Regions from separate parts of the Homo sapiens genome. Here region 1 is linked to region 2. The links come from fine-mapping of genetic effects on gene expression. A gene starts in region 2. The other region holds a variant in brackets. All regions are shown on one strand. Distances are from middle to middle.

Evidence for each region. PIP is the estimated chance that this variant, and not a neighbour inherited with it, causes the effect.
Region 1: its variant is fine-mapped to the expression of ANKEF1 in thyroid (GTEx, PIP above 0.99).

Annotation. Positions count from the first base shown.
Region 1 is chr20:10,002,190-10,010,529 of GRCh38, reverse strand. PARAL1 (PPARG activating RBM14 associated lncRNA 1) reads right to left here. Exons shown (of 2, transcript NR_109861.1): 2 at 3,414-4,017. Among named protein-coding and RNA genes, the nearest start is that of PARAL1, 20 kb to the right of the region's middle. The variant G/T (reference allele first, on the strand shown) is at 4,323.
Region 2 is chr20:10,030,874-10,039,213 of GRCh38, reverse strand. It overlaps ANKEF1 (ankyrin repeat and EF-hand domain containing 1), which reads right to left and starts at 4,227. Exons shown (of 11, transcript NM_022096.6): 1 at 3,881-4,227; 2 at 3,572-3,635; 3 at 567-956. The coding sequence starts at 912. The region is part of intron 3 of SNAP25-AS1 (SNAP25 antisense RNA 1); the gene reads left to right. RefSeq lists a silencer at 3,887-4,436.

The DNA.
Region 1 (8,340 bases), 29 kb after region 2:
TAATAATTTCATGTTTTTGGGTTTCCTCAGTAAAACTTTGGTCTTAACAAAAGTCTTTATTCCCCTGTTATAATTATCACCCTAACTACAGGCAAGAAAAAAAATAATCTACCACTTATATCAGTCAACTACTGCCGCTATAATGTTACCTCATAGATTCACCCACAAATTTAGTGGTCACAGAAGTAAGCATCTGCTGTCATGCTTGGATTCTTGAGTTGACTGCTATTGACTCATTTAGAATATGCTTGATTGGGCAGCTCTATTTCCGTATTTATGTTCCAAGACTGAAGCTCTTGGCTATGATGGGTTCAAGTTTGCTCCACGTTTCCTTCCAGGGCCTAGGCTGAAGGAGAAGACATAGCAGCCCATGGGACATGTTCGTCTCATGGATGATCACAATTGCCAAGAAGATAAGCCAGCATACAGGTTATGCCAGGTCTGCTAACAACTTCTTTTCCAAAGCAAGTTACATGGCCAAATCTAGAATCAAGGGGTGGGGCAGTTCACTCAGTCCACTAGGCAGTAGTATGAATTTATAACTTAATTAAGAGGAAATGAAGAATTGGGGTGAATTTTTAAAATCTATGATACCACTGAGAGTATTTCCTTTCTGGACTCTTTCGGCTCTGCCCATGCTTCTAGCCCTGGTGAAATCCACTGTGTTTAAGACCTATTTTCATATCTTGTCATCCAGCTTTTCTATCAGAAAGCACTCATTATTTGAGTGGCTCCATCTTAGTAATGAACCAGAGCAATGACTAGTAAGAGAAAATTTAAAAATATCCATCAGTCCCCATGTAGTCTTCACAGAAACAGAGCCAAACAGTTGTTACTTAACATAGTTCAGTGAGGTTCTTGGTTTATAGGTGAAAGCAATAAACATGTTGGTTTCTTTTCTTTCCTCATTTGTTCTGCAGCAATAGCAAAGGGGATTTTCATTAAAGTGATCCAATTCCAGTTTAAAGTTTTGGTCTGCAAAGTTTAACAAATAGTCTCAGTTTCAGAGTTCATTTTAACTGCCTCTAACCCTTTACTAATTAACTTACCATCTTTCCTTCTAGATGCTAGAAGAAGACTGTTGCTATTGTTTTTCTCCATGCTCAAGGATTTTTGTCCTTTGCAAAATAATCTCAGAATGTATTGTAGAAGCTACTGATGCCCCAATCTATGTCCGTCAGCCAAATGTCTGGATTCACTGCAGCTGCGCGACACACCCATGTCTTTCTACCTCAACTATCCACGCCTCTCTGCTTGCTTCTCTGCCTGTGGGGCTTTCTTGGCAGTACAGGAGTTTGCTCTGCCTAGAAGTGTAATGAGTTTAATTTCCCAGCAGCAATTTTCAACCAGTGAGAAACTGGAACTGGTGCATAAACAGCCCAGATTCCCTATCACCCTTTGGGCCACACTCTCAGAAAGCTTGAGATTGCGGTTACCTGCTCCCTGCTCCCTTGTGCACACACCTTTCATTGGCTGTCTTCCCTTTTCTACTTCACTCCTCACTCCCTTGTTGCACTTCCTGGGATCACCTGTCAAACTACCTGGGGCATGGTGACATGCATCTGTAGTCCCAACTACACAGGAGGTTGAGGTGAGAAGATCACTTGAACCCAGGAGTTCTAGTCCAGCCTGGGCAACATAGCAAGACTCCTGTCTCTTAAAAAATAAAATAAAATACATGTATCTACATCATTTTCTCAGGGTTGGCTTTTGGAGGAGCCTAAACTAAGACTGTAAGCAGGAAACACTGAGAGCTCTCCCTAAAATGCACAAAACTCAGAGAAACTAAAGCAATAAAGTAACTTAATTTATGTGTAGATAAAAAGTGTCTCAGAGATGGCATTGTTCTGTCAGAGCTGGCAAGTTAAAAAGCAGCCAAATACAAAAAATATGCACAGAAGAAAAAGAAAAACACTCATCCAGGTGCTGGTCTGTGTTTAAAGCACAGAGAGGTGCAGTTTAGTCTTAGGCTTCTTCTGTGCCCTGGTATATTAGTCTGTTCTCACTCTGCTATGAGGACATACCCGAGACTGAGTAATTTATAAAGTAAAGAGGTTTAGTTGACTCACAGTTCAACATGGCTGGGTAGGCCTCAGGAAACTTACAATCATGACAGAAGGGGAAGCAAACACGCCCTTGTTCACATGGCAGTAGCAAGGAGAAGTGCCACGCAAAAGGGGGAAAAGCCTGTTATAAAACCATCAGATCCCGTGAGAACTCACTATCATAAGAACAGCATGAGGGTAACGACCCCCATGATTAAATTACCTCCCACCAGGTCGCAGCTCTAACACATGGGAATTACAATTCAGATTACAATTCACAATGAGATTTTGTGTGGGGACACAGCCAAACTATATCACCTGGCTTCTTCCACTCCCTAACTAGTATTACCAGATCTTTTCTCTCTGTGGGTGCTCCTTTCTCTGACTATTGTCCAGAAGGGACAAATATGGTCCTGTGCTCATTATTTCAAGAACAATAGATTTGCATCAGACTCATGTGCTTCTGAGAAATGATGTCGAACCACTCTTGCGTTGTAGCTCACATCCTCTTGGCCACATTTTTACAGCAACCAGCTTTGTGATAGTGTCACTGCCAGCACCTTGCATCAGCTGCAGCACTTATCTCTTGCTTCTCTGTTACCATCTGTTAAGATGCCTTCTGCAAACTACTCAGCCATTCTGAAGCAGGTGCAATCTTTGAAGTCCACGGTCGTGAACAGCCTTTCGGCCAACATGACCAATGGTAGAAGACAGTCAATGGATCATCCCTTCTCTCATTTGTCTTTCTGGTGGACAATTTTGAAGTGTATTCTGTGTAGTTTCTCAGAGTGTCCCCTGGAGACCTGTGTCTCATTTGCTCACAGCATTGTTTAGATTAACACATCTTCTTGATTTTACTTTTTCCTGCATGTACACTCTTGTGTCCAACCCAAGTTTCTGGGGAACACTATGCTGTTTGGGTCCACATTTCCCTGTTTCTCCCTTCCTAGTGGCTCCTCACACAACCCTGGACCAATTGCTCTGACATCAACATGGTCTCCATCTTGCCTTAAAATGAACAAAGGGGTAAAGATTTAAAAATGAGAATCTTGCTGCTAACTGCTCTGAAGGTATTAACCACGTGTAAAATTTTGAACAAATGTTTATAACTCTAACTTGTTGAATACTTGTTGACATACTTGTTGAATTTGTTAAATTTTAAAAAACTTACTGATTGTAATTGTTGAATTTTTGAGAACCCTAATTCTTCCTCAAAATTGGTCCTTCATTCATTTCCACTTTTCTTTGGAATGTACGGTATTTACAACCATGGCTGCAGATTTTTTGGGGGTTGGTTATTGATTCAGAAAAAATGCTTATTAATATGTCATTTGGGCAGGCACTATAAAGAATATAGAGTGACTAAAATGCAGTTGCTAAAATACAAGGATAATTTAATGATGAAATAGGAAAAGCTTTACAAATAACCAGAGCAAGTGAAATACAGAGTATGATCAGCATAATGAATAAAGTGTTGACATAATACATAATACATGAAGTCCTAATACATAATGTTATGGTGACAAGAGAAGCCCATCTGGTCAGAAGCATAGACTACACACTGTTTTTCAGTTGGCTCATGAAGGATGCTCCTCTTGGGCTGTGCTGAGACTAGCAAAGACAATTGGTGAGCTTTTTTTTTGTCACAATGACAAAAATGTTTGTATTTGGTTGGCTAAGACATTTTGAAGCAACATTTTTCAATTTAATTCTTGAGAACATTTTGATGGCTCGCTCTCGACATCTCAAGCTCCAAGGATATTTCAACAAGTTTCTGTGCTATGTCATCAAACAGCATGTTTCTCCTCTCCAAGATTGAGCTTTTAAGAGTTACGGAGTCTACTTTTCCTGAGGTCGTGAAGTCCTAATACATGTACTTTTGAAGCATGATGACTCTTCATGCCTCCTGGGTATTTCTGCTTCTTTATGAGAATTTCATTGTTATTCATGTGTAGATGACAGTTTGAATGACCTAGAAAGAACAAAACATAAAAGTAATGATTACATAATTCCTGCCATCCCTAATTAACTATGTTTTATTTTCTAAGAGCTGCAGATGTTATATTACTCATAAAAGTCTGTTCATGTATTATTTATGCCACACGAATAAAATGTTTGTTAGCTTGAAACACTTAAGCAAATTCTCTGGGTTTCTTTAAATTAAAAAAGCAGTATGAAGTTATATTAGCCTTGTGTCTTTTGATTTTCTGTATTCTGAAAGGCTTGACATCCAGGGCCTTGCTCCTGCCTCACAAGGTTCACTAATTCCTAGAAATA[G/T]TAAGTCAACAACTCTCCTGCTAGCAAAACTTTCAAATGCAAACCAACCAATTCAGAGCCCAACCACTTCCTTATCAGGTCCTCCTCATACACCAGTATCTCCACCTGCCCAAATCTCCCCAGGTACCAGACAAGGAAGGATAAGCCCTGTGCTCAATACTATTTTTACAAGATAAGCACTTACATATTTCACAATAAGTCTAAGAAAAACTTGGAAAGAACAAATATCAAGCTCTGAACAGCGGTGACCTCAAGGGCAAAGGATTAGAGAACAAATTTTTGAGTTCTCCCTTTCATAGGATTTTTTTTTAATGTGAGAATATAGCATGTTTTTATTTTTAAATTTTCCCTACTTTCAAATTTTAAAAAGTATAAAGAGAACCGGTGAAATTAGTTTACTTAAGCACATACTTCATAGCTTTGTAAATATTTTTTATAAATCCTCCAGAGTTTCAGTCTCCTTTCTAAAATAAAATGAATACAATTAAAATGAAATTTTCTCCTTGTAATTATGCCAATGAGATTGATAAAAGGCATGAATTTGGTGGGGAGGAGGAGCGTGCGTATTATGGTGCCAAGTTGGGAAGAAGGAAGAACACGGAATTCTACCCTATTTTTTCATTTTAAATTAATGCCATTTGGAAGGGAGGGGGGCAATAACATTGAGGGAAGAGACACCATACTGTGTTTTCTTTGATTTGAGGGGCATAAATTGTAAGTAAATAAATACCATCTTAAAAGCTTTTTATGGCACTCTTTTGAAAGACATATTTGAGAGCTCTATATATTGTCTTTCTCCCCTCACCCCCACCTGTCCCTCCAGGGATCTTTGACTTTTAAGGTTTTAGGAAATAAGGCACTGAGAAAAATGAGAAAATAAGAATACTGAGCCAGGATCATGATTCAAATAATTTAGTGAGAGCCTTAAACAAAATTAAGAAGTAACCAAAATGAAGAAAACAGAATGAAAAAATGACCAAACTGGGTTAAACATTTGGATGTATTTTTAGTGTTTATTTTCAAGGATTCAAGTGGTATTATCTTTCAACCCTGCAACTTCCCACTGTGGCTGCATGTGAAAGTATGTGGCGATTACATCTGGAACAGGATGAGGCCTGCTATAAATGTGAGGCCTGAACCCTGCCCCTCACCCTCCCCATGGCAGGCACTGATGGACTCACTAATTCCTCCACCACTGAGAAACACAGAGTGGAAGCAGTGAGTTCACTGTGCTATGCATGTGCTTAGAAAATGTCCCGTATTCATTTCCATATTTCTTATGATAATTAGGCAAATTTTATCTCACTTTCATGAAGTAATAAATTTAAAATGAAATTAAATGAAATAAAATATTCTTATCTGTTGGAGAAGCTGTAAGCAAAACCCAAGAGAAACTGCTACACACTTTCTTGTGTGGGGTCAAGGCAGTGCAGTGAGGAAGAGATGAATGCATAAAGTATTTTTACTTTTTAAAACACTCGCCTATGCTGTATAAGTGTCTCTAGCATAGTGTCTACTAAATGGACATGCACCTGATAAATGAATATTGATTGAAAAGTTAAATGAACAAATACATGATGCAATTTTGGGGAGGAGGGGATCATTTTGTTAGCCTTCCAAGAGGACTGAAAATTCATGTTGAAGTAGGTTATTAAAATATTATTGTAAGTACTATGTACTTGTAGGGAATTCATTATTTCTATTGGTTATCAAAAAAAGCTGCATTAGTTATCATGACAGACAAACAGATCAGCATGGCCATGTTATGATTCTTTTTTTTGGCAACATTAAATGCTTCTGTTTCTCTCATTACTTATTGGGAACCCGAATGTGGTCATATATATCCATGTGCTAGATAAAATGATGGATGACCTGTGGTATTTGAAACTGGCTTCCTTCAGCTGTGATCGTATAGTGGTTAGTACTCTGCATTGTGAAACTGGGGTTCTTCAATCAAACTTAATGGGAAAATCTTATTACCACTCATAATAGAACATTATTCCCTTTACAAAGATATTAACCTTGATGCTTTGATCTAAAAATATTTAAGTATTTAATTTTTAATGCAATTCTCTTAACATTTAAAAATAATCTATGACATGCTAGGTGTTACAGATTTCTAAAACAATGAAACATGGCCCTGACCTTGTGAAGCTTGGGGTTTAGTGGGGGAGTCAGGGCTATATATACCATCACAATACACAATAGTGCTATACTTAGGGGTATGAACAAAACAATATTAACTCACAGAGGTGGTGATGACATAGGAGTTAAGAAAAAATTATTTAGGCAGATAGTGAGGGTACGAGAGTCCTTGGTAAAGTTTTCCTTTTAATGAAAAGCAGCCCCCAAATCATTTTCTTTTCTAACAAAGAGCAGCCTGTAAAATAGAGCTGCAGACATAGACAAGAAAGCTGGAAGCTTGCACAGGTGAATGCCAGCAGTTGTGCCAAGAGGAAAAGGCTATCTGGGACTAGGCATGTGCAAAATGGCGACTCCATGTTCCCTTCTTTTGCCAGCTACGTGTACAGTAAGGAGCAGACAAGTTGGCCCTGGCCAAGTGAAAAACCCATTTGCATAATAAGATTAGGGTGGGGTGGCCAGCCTTCCCTGTGCGCTATATAAACATCACATCTGGTCCAACCAATCTGTGGGCCCTAGTAAATCAGACACTGCCTCCTGAAGCCTGCCTATAAAATCTGGTGCAGTATGCCACAGGCTGGTTTTTCCCTTTCGGGAGCCCCTCTCTCACGAGAGAGAGAGCTATTCTCCTTTCTCTTTCTTTTAGCTAGTAAACCTCCACTCCTAAACTCCCTTGCCCTGTGTGTCCATGTCCTTAATCTTCTTGGCGGAGAGACAAACCTTGGGTATTTACCCCAGATAATGACACAGCTTCAGTGAGGTCACTAAAAAGGAGAAATTTTAGTTTGAACTTTTTTATTTATTTATTTTTAGTTTCAATCTCTTTTAGACTTCACTGGATAAAAAAGAGAAGAAATGAATAAGTGAATAAATAAATGTCCTGCCTCTAAGAGACAGCAAGGGCAAAGGCAGAGAGGAATTTAAAAACATGGTATCACAGCACATTCACTGTGCAGTAGCTGGAAATAGAATACAAATCATGCATTGCTCTTCAATGTCAAATTACTGAAGGCCATATGGTGTCTATTTGGCTTGTGTAAACTGCACTTTCAAATACAAGAAACAAAACAAATTGTATTTCAAGTTATTTGCTTCTTTCTTAAGGAGGAATCTACCTACCGTTTCTAATCTCCTTGTCTAGAGGGAACAAACAGGTTTGCATCAGCAGCTATTCTGTTGGTGTAATATGCATGTCCAAAAATAGCACCAAATCAAATAGTTTTAATCCTCAATTTTGTTAAATAGCTGGATATATTGGATATTTTTCCAAAATAAATCTAAATAAATATTGAAAAACTAATAAATATACCAACATGGTATACTTTAGAACTATGAGTGATAGTACGTCAGGTAGCCAGGCAAGTGTAGAAACAGATGTTGCCCAGCACAAGGTCTCTGGGTCTGTTTCTTCCAATCTCCACCCATCATCACTCTGGCTTGACTCCTTGATCATCAGCCTTTGTGTTCTACTCATGATTGTGCCCTTTATTCTTCATTTTTATTTATTTATTTATTTATTTATTTATTTATTTATTTATTTATTTATTTATTTTGAGGCGGAGTCTCACTCTGTCGCCCAGGCTGGAGTGCAGTGGCACAATCTCGGCTCATGGCAACCTCTGCCTCCTGGATTCAAGCGATTCTCCTGCCTCAGCTTCCCAAGTAGCTGGGACTACAGGCGCCCACCACCACACCCGGCTAATTTTTTTTTTTTTTGTATTTTTAGTAGAGATAGGGTTTCACTGTGTTAGCCAGGTTGGTCTCGATCTCCCGACCTTGTGATCTGCCCGCCTTGGCCTCCCAAAGTGCTGGAATTACAGGCATGAGCCACTATTCTTTATTTTTTTTCCATTTGCCTTACTACAAATAAATATAT
Region 2 (8,340 bases):
CTGAATCATTGTTGAAAGGTCATGTCTAAAGTTTGAAGTTGTATTTCCAAATACATTTTTAAATGATCCTAGAAAGTTGGAGTTTATGCCAGAATTGACTTTAGTCCTTTCAAGTTTCCAAGTGCAAGTCCTTCCTACATCAGACTGCTATTGAGGGGGTCAAAATCCTTTTGGAGTCCTAGGTGTAGTACTGCCTGAAATTCTAAAATGTAAAAAAGAATAAGAAATGCTCTACTTCATCTTTGTTTTAAAGAAGAGTTTATAATTTATAATGAATAATCAGTGTGTATAATGTTCAAAATTCTCCTCATTTAAAAGAAACCACCAAACACAAATTAATCTAAGTATATGAGCAAGCTCTCATAAATGATTTCCCTAAGATATAGCTATCTCATTTTCAAAGTATGAGGAGACAGTAGGTTTAGGTATAGGAGTGAGAATTTAGCCTTTCCCTTAAAACCATAAGTAATTCACTTCTAAAGTTGGAAAACAAAAAGAGTCCATGTTATTGCTTTCTGGCTACAAAATGAATTGCAATCTGCTGGAGAGGATGTCGGGATTTTTACCTTTTCCTTCATTATCAACTATAGTCATATCAGCCTTTGCCTTTGCTAATATTTCCATTGACAATTCATGGCCCAGTTCTGCAGCCCTCATTGTGGGAGTACAGCCCATTCGGTCTTGCACATCAGGGTGAGCACCAAGGTCAAGGAGAAAGCTGACCATATCAATATCATTGGAAACTGAGGCTAAGTGCAAAGCACTAAGTCCATTAATGGGTTCTGTATAATTGATTAGTTCAGGGTATCCAAGCTTGGTCAGCTTCTCTATCTGCTTCTTGTCTTTGTTCCGCACACATTGAAGAACTTTGTAGATCTGTAAGTTCTCAAGTCTCTTATCTGCTAAAGCCATGCTTGACCAGCTCCTTGAAAATGCTTTCTGGACCAAAACTAAAGCTGAAGCAACAAAAAAGAAAAATAACTCAAAGTTAATTTTATCATCTTCATTTTGATTAAATAACAATATTTTGGAACTTCCTTAAGAACAGAGATTGTTTTTTAAGAAATGTTCAGAAAGTAGGATTTATACATAAATATCAAAAATATTGAGTGGGCATAAAGTTAAAACAGTTCAAACAAATCTTCCATCATAATTAAAAATAGTTTGCCAGGTGGTTTTCTTATTATCCATTTAACCTTCCCTCCTCATCACACTTTACCATTTTACCATGAAGAAGCTGAGGTTAACTAAATTGCCATGGTAAGGGTTTGAGTTCCCACCATCTATCTACATGGTTTCACACCAGCAAAATAGAGAGATCATGCAGGTTTTAATAGTTTTAAGGTGTTATAAAAACATATAATTTTGAGGTGTTCATTATAAACAAATCTACTGGGCTCTGTAACATATCAGAGATGTGATGAGTGATTCCTATGTCATCTTAAGTGGAAAAGATGTAGTTAAATGGCTGCAAGGAAACTGCAAATCTTCATAAACAATCTCCCTGTTAAATTGTGATGGGCATTCTAGTATGTAATTTTACCTCCTTGTACGGAAAATCTTTTGGATTGAGTAGCAGGCCATGCTAGGTATGACCAGTTGTTTCTTCATTTCTTATGAGAAAAGAACTCCATTATCACATAGGGAATCCTATCCGGGTCGTTTGGATGGGGCTGTCCCTTCTGTCCCCTGCCAGAGGAAAGCGTCTGTGGCCTAGGCTTGGCCCATTTGAGGGAACCATCCCTTTCCAGGTACACTGAAGCTCAAGCATATGTGCATAAAAGACATCAACCAATCAGCAGCCCATCATCCAGAACTATGAGGGAAGACTATTCTGCTGAAGTTGTTAAGCAGTATGGTGTGGGGCTGGGGCGCAGGTAGCTCTCTTGGGTGCCACAGAGAGAGTCCATGCTTGGAGGATGGAGAGAGACTGAGATTGATGGCATTAGTTGCAACATGGATTCCATGGTGCCAGAAGCCATCTACCACTTTGTGGGTAAATACATCTTCTCCCCCGTCACCTTATTTTGGTATAAGCTAGTTAGCTAAGTTTCCAACATTTGCAATGAAAAGATTCCATCTTACTACAAAAGTTGAAACTATGCACCATTTTTCTCCATCGCAAGCCTGCTCCCTCACCTACATTCTCTACGGCAGTGAGCTCTCTCTCCTTTAAATGTGTCTCTCTAGGCACCACAACATCTCCATCGCCTGCTTCCATCCAACACCAATGCCCCCTCCTGCTCAGGCTCCTTTGCTGACTCCCCATTTCAAGAAGCCTATGTTGGGTGCCCAGGGCTAGGTCCTCAAGACTCTTTTCTGTCCTCACACACTCCCCTGGTGTCTCGCCCTATCCCATGACCCTCGACCCTCAGCCCAACTCTCACTCTGTCACCCAGGCTGGAGTGTAGTGGCACAATCTCGGCTCACTGCAACCTCCACCTCCTGGGTTCAAGCGATTCTCCTGCCTCAGCCTCCCGAGTAGCTGGGATTACAGGTGCCCACCACCACACCTGGCTAATTTTTGTATTTTTAGTAAAGACAGGGTTTCACCATGTTGGCCAGGCTGATCTTGAACTCTTGACCTCAGGTGATCCACCCGCCTCAGCCTCCCAAAGTGTTGGGACTACAGGCGTGAGCCACCGGGCCAGGCCTCCTTTGCCTTTTAATCTGTTTATAACATGCGGTGGACTAGGGAACCAACTGAGGCTGCCTCAGAGTCATCCACTTGGACTTTGCTGCACGGCTTGGTGACACTCACCTTAGCTGCTATTTATGGCTTGTTTTATTATTATCGGCCATATTCCGATTAGGTGCGGTGTCATCATACTGCATATGTATATGTGTCATCTATGGAATAGGGCAAGATGCTCCTACATAGGTAATGATTAGACTGAATCAATGCCACTTGATTTGTGAAAATAAGGATTTCCCAATCAGGGACTTCAATGTTGCCTCTGTTAGCACCCATCTCTAACGGAGAATTAATTAGCAGCTACAGTGATGAATTCAGTAGGTCCATGGGTCGGTTTCCTGTGGACTGCCTCCCTCCCAGCTAAAGCCCTGAAGTGCTGGGGAGAGGGCAGCACCCTGTATAGTGTCCTTCACAATCAACTGCTAAGACTGACCAAGAGCTCACCCCACTGCAGGAAATCACACAAGTGTAGCCCTTGGGTCCTGGGTTCCTTGTAAATTGAGCAGCATATAGGATCCTCCACATACAAGCACACCTGTACTTTTCCCCAGCATGACCCTGGGCCACCTTAGTCACATCTAACCATCTACCAAGGTAGTGGAATAGAGCAGAATGTCTTGACTTGAGGTCCATGTTCGGGGTCTGAATACTCGGAAATTACATGAAAATCTGTGGGAATCTGTGTGTGTTCAGGTCATTTAACTCTCAAAGGGGGGCTGTGCGACAAGGAAGGATCATTAGAAAGAGGAATGGAGGAAGACAAGCTTGGTACAGTGGAATGTAGGGTTTGAGGTGGGGAAATCCGTTGTGATCCTCCCTTCCCTGTATCATTATTTACACAAACTAGTTGGATATAAATATGGATATGCTACCTACCTAGTTTTTACCTCAGTTTCTGCATCTGTGAACTGGCAATAGCAATGGTGCCCACTTCATGGGACTGTGTGAAAAGGAAATGAGATATGATCCTTGTAAAACATTTAGCAAAGTCCTTCAATATAGGCTCCTTATGAATACACCAAACTTTTGCGGGTTTCAGCTCACCCACAAGTGTAAGCGATAGTTTACATGTTGGGGGTTCTCTACTGTGCTTTCCACTTTTTAGTCTCCAGAAAAATCTGGAGAAGAGAGGAGTGGAGGGGGTAGAGATGTAACGTCAAAGGAAAAGCCATGTGTCATGCTCACCTCTTAGTCTTCCGGGCGATCAGAAGCCAGGGATCTCTGGGCACCTATGTGCCTGGGCCTGCTGGGGCGACCGGGGAGGCCCCTGCTCTCGTCCTCTGACGCTCAGCGCTGGCCCAGCCGCGACCTTGGGCTCCCGGAGCCCGGCGGAGGCGCCCAGGCGTGAATGATGTCCCTTGGGTAGGGCTGGTGAGCTGGCGCGCGGGACAGCAGGGCTGGGTGTATGTGTCCATGGGCCCCGGGTCCCCGGAAGGCGAGCGCGCGGGCAGGTGAGCGCAGGGGGCGGGGTGGAAGCCGGAGGGACCGGGCTGATTGTGAGCTTCCGCCACGCAGGGCGCGGCTGCCGGGGCAACCGCAGCGTGCGCGGTGGGGCGGTGCTCGCCTCCGCCTCCGCCTCCGCCTCCGCCTCCGCCTCCGCCTCCGCCTCCGCCTCCGCCCCCGCCCCCGCCTCCGCCTCCGCCCCTCGCGCCTGGCTTCGACGCCAGGTGGCCGGCCTGGGCGGGATGGGGTAGCTGCGCTGGGTGTTCCAGGGCGGAGCGCAGAATGCTGCTGTCTTGAGGATTCCGCCCTTCTCTCATTCTCTTCTCCCACCTCCTGCCCTGGGTCAGAACGTAATTTAGTTATAAAATTAAAGCTGCATATGGCAATTAAAAAATGAAGTAAAATATACAATAAATATTTAGTTTACAAAGTACAATTAAATGAAAAATACAATAAATTACACAATAAAGCGAAAGTGAACCTACTCTCAACTGCCACAGATTCTTGCAAATCTTCCCAGAAATTTTCTTTCCATACTCTAGGATGCATATATGCTTAAAAAATATTTATACACAAATGGAAGCAAATATGGAGATCACTTTATTTCAGGGCCTACAAATGCACCATAACACCCCTCTCTCTCCCTCCACACATGCTTTTTGGCGGAAAATTCTGAAAGCTTTGGTTTGATTATGTGAATGTAAAACATATATATGTGTGTCTATATATATATGCTTTTTAATGCAGTATGTAATTGCTTCCAATTAAAAACAGTAATTCCTTACACCAGCCTACCCTATTCTACTCAGAGACTGTTTAAAAATGTTAAGAGCGAAGACATGGAATCAACCTAAGTGCTCATCAATGATAGACTGGCTAAAGATAATGCGGTACATATACACCATGGAATACTATGCAACCATATAAAGGAACAAAATTATGTCTTTTGCAGGAATATGGAGCTGGAGGCAATTATCCTTGGCAAGCTAACGCAGAAACAGAAAACCCAATACTGCATGTTCTCACTTATGAGTGAGAGCTAAGTGATGAGAACACATGGACACATAGAGGGGAACAGCACACACTGGGGCCTATTGGAGGGTAGAAGGTGGAGAGTGGGAGGAGGGAGAGGATCAAGAGAAATAACTAATGGGTACTAATCTTAATACCTGGGTGAGAAAATAATTTGTGCAACAAAACCACATGACACAAGTTTACCTATATAACAAATCTGCACATGTACCCCTGAACTTAAACGTCAAATAAAAAATAATAAAAATGTTATTAAGGACTATTTCATGCACACCAAAATATACTGTATGATATATGGAAAGTACATACCATACCATACCATAGCTAAAGAAATACCATAGCTAAAGAAAAAGAAAGCTAGGAAAAATAAAGGAAAAAGGAAAAGGAAAAAAAAGTCTGCCTCTACTGCTGTACTTATATGTATTTCTTCCCAACACTGCATCCTCCTCTTCCTGTTCCCAGAGATAATACCTGTTCTGAATTTTACATTTATCATCCCAGCCTCTTAAAAATGCATTGCTACATTGAATGCCTCCCTAAATAATGCATGTTTAATATTGCATATTTTGAGAATTTATAAAAATGTGGTAGAATGTTGTGTATTGTTTTGATGACTTTTTTCCTTTCAACGTCTTGTTTTTGAAATGTATCTTTGTTGGTATGTTTAATTGGAGTTCCTTTATCTAAACAGCTGTAGGCTATTCCATTATATTACCATTCCACACCCCTTTCAAATCAATTCCACTATTGATAGACATTTGGGATGTTTCCAGAATTTGCTACTAAAAGCAATACTACTAAGATCATGTTTATAAATGTCTTTGGACGCACACGTTCAAGAGTTTCACTAGAGTATATGTCTAGGAGTTAAATTTCTGGGTCATAGGTTATTTATAACATCAAGATAAAGACAACTTGTTTTCCCGACATATACAGCAATTTAGACTCCCATCAGCAGTGTGTATCTTAGCCAAAACTTGGTTTTGTCACACAAAAAACTTTCTGCCAATCTTGGTATCAATGCTCTTTTATAATTTACTTTACGTGACCTGATTACTAATTATTAATCTGTAAGTTTGATTCCTTAGAGATATTTGAGTGTAAATTTATTGTCAAACTGTGTCCAAAATTGGTGGGTTCTTGGTCTCACTGACTTCAAGAATGAAGCCAGGGACCCTCGCGGTGAGTGTTACAGCTCTTAATGTGGCGCATCTGGAGTTTGTTCCTTCTGATGTTCGGATGTGTTCGGAGTTTCTTCCTTCTGGTGGGTTCGTGGTCTCGCTGGCTCAGGAGTGAAGCTGCAGACCTTCACGGTGAGTGTTACAGCTCTTAAGGCGGCGCTTCTGGAGTTGTTGGTTCCTCCTGGTGGGCTCGTGGTCTCGCTGGCTTCAGGAGTGAAGCTGCAGACCTTCGCAGTGAGTGTTACAGCTCATAAAAGCAGTGTGGACCCCAAGAGTGAGCAGCAGCAAGATTTATTGCAAACAGTGAAAGAACAAACCTTCCACAGTGTGGAAGGGAACCCAAGCGGGTTGCCACTGCTGGCTCAGGCAGCCTGCTTTTATGCTCTTATCTGGCCCCACCCACATCCTGCTGATTGGTAGAGCCGAGTCCTCTGTTTTGACAGGGCGCTGATTGGTGCGTTTACAATCCCTGAGCTACACCCAAAGGTTCTCCATGTCCCCACCAGATTAGCTGGCTACAGAGTGTGGACACAAAGGTTCTCCAAAGCCCCACCAGAGTAGCTAGATACAGAGTGTGGCTTGGTGCGTTCACAAACACTAAGCTAGACACAGGGTGCTGATTGGTGTGTTTACAAACCTTGAGCTAGATACGGAGTGCCGATTGGTGTATTTACAATCCCTGAGCTAGACATAAAGGTTCTCCACGTCCCCACCAGACTCAGGAGCCCAGCTGGCTTCCCCCAGTGAATCCCGCACGAGAGCTGCAGGTGGAGCTGCCTGCCAGTCCCGCGCCGTGCGCCCGCACTCCTCAGCTCTTGGGTGGTCGATGGGACTGGGCGCCGTGGAGCAGGGGGTGGTGCTCATCGGGGAGGCTCGGGCGCACGGGAGCCCATGGAGGGGGTGGGAGCTCAGGCATGGCGGGCTGCAGGTCCCGAGCACCCCCCGCGCGAAGGCAGCTAAGGCCCGGTGAGAAATTGAGCGCAGCGCCTGTGAGCTGGCACTGCTGGGGGACGGAGTACACCCTCCGCAGCTGCTGGCCCGGGTGCTAAGCCTCTCATTGCCTGGGGCTGGAAGGGCTGGCCGGCTGCTCCGAGTGCGGGGCCCGCCAAGCCCACGCCCACCCAGAACTCCAGCTGGCCCGCAAACGCCGTGCGCAGCCCCGGTTGCCGCTCGCGCCTCTCCCTCCACACCTCCCTGCAAGCTGAGGGAGCCGGCTCCGGCCTTGGCCAGCCCAGAAAGGGGCTCCCACAGTGCAGTGGTGGGCTGAAGGGCTCCTCAAGTGCCGCCAAAGTGGGAGCCCAGGCAGAGGAGGCGCCTGGAGCCAGCGAGGGCTGTGAGGACTGCCAGCACGCTGTCACCTCTCAAAGCTACCCTATTCACTCTCAACTACTTACCACATAACTCTCAGATTATTTTAACAGAACCAGGGCACCGTTTCTTGAACTACTGTTTCTCAGTGTAGGCAAAGCCTCACATTTGAGTTTTTTTTGACATAATGGAGCCTAGAAGTCACTCAGGTTCCTTGGGTCTCAGTTGTAAAATCAGAATAGTATGAACTGCCCTCACAAGCCGTAAAAGAAGTATGCATAACAATGACATAAGCTCCATCTTGGCTCTGTGGTTGATTCTTGGGGAATACTTCTGTGGATAAACAGTTCCAACTATGTATTATAGGTCATCAATAGATCTTTCCAATGATAATCTTCCCCATGTTTGGAGACAAAGTTGGTATCAGTAACAACCTTGTTTCTGTTCTGGAGAAAGTTCCTGAAATTATTTGAGAATCTGGTAGATTTTGGAGGAAACACATCTAGAAGACTGAAAGGAGTAGATTAATAATGTGTGAACTCTGCTTGGGTCATATCAGAACTACTGGCGCAAATATTTTGAATAGAAGTTGGGTAAGCATTTGCTGTTTGATTGAGACCTTGGAGATAAGCATGTGGTCCGATTCACTCTCCTAACTTTGTTTTAGGGAATTTTTTTTTT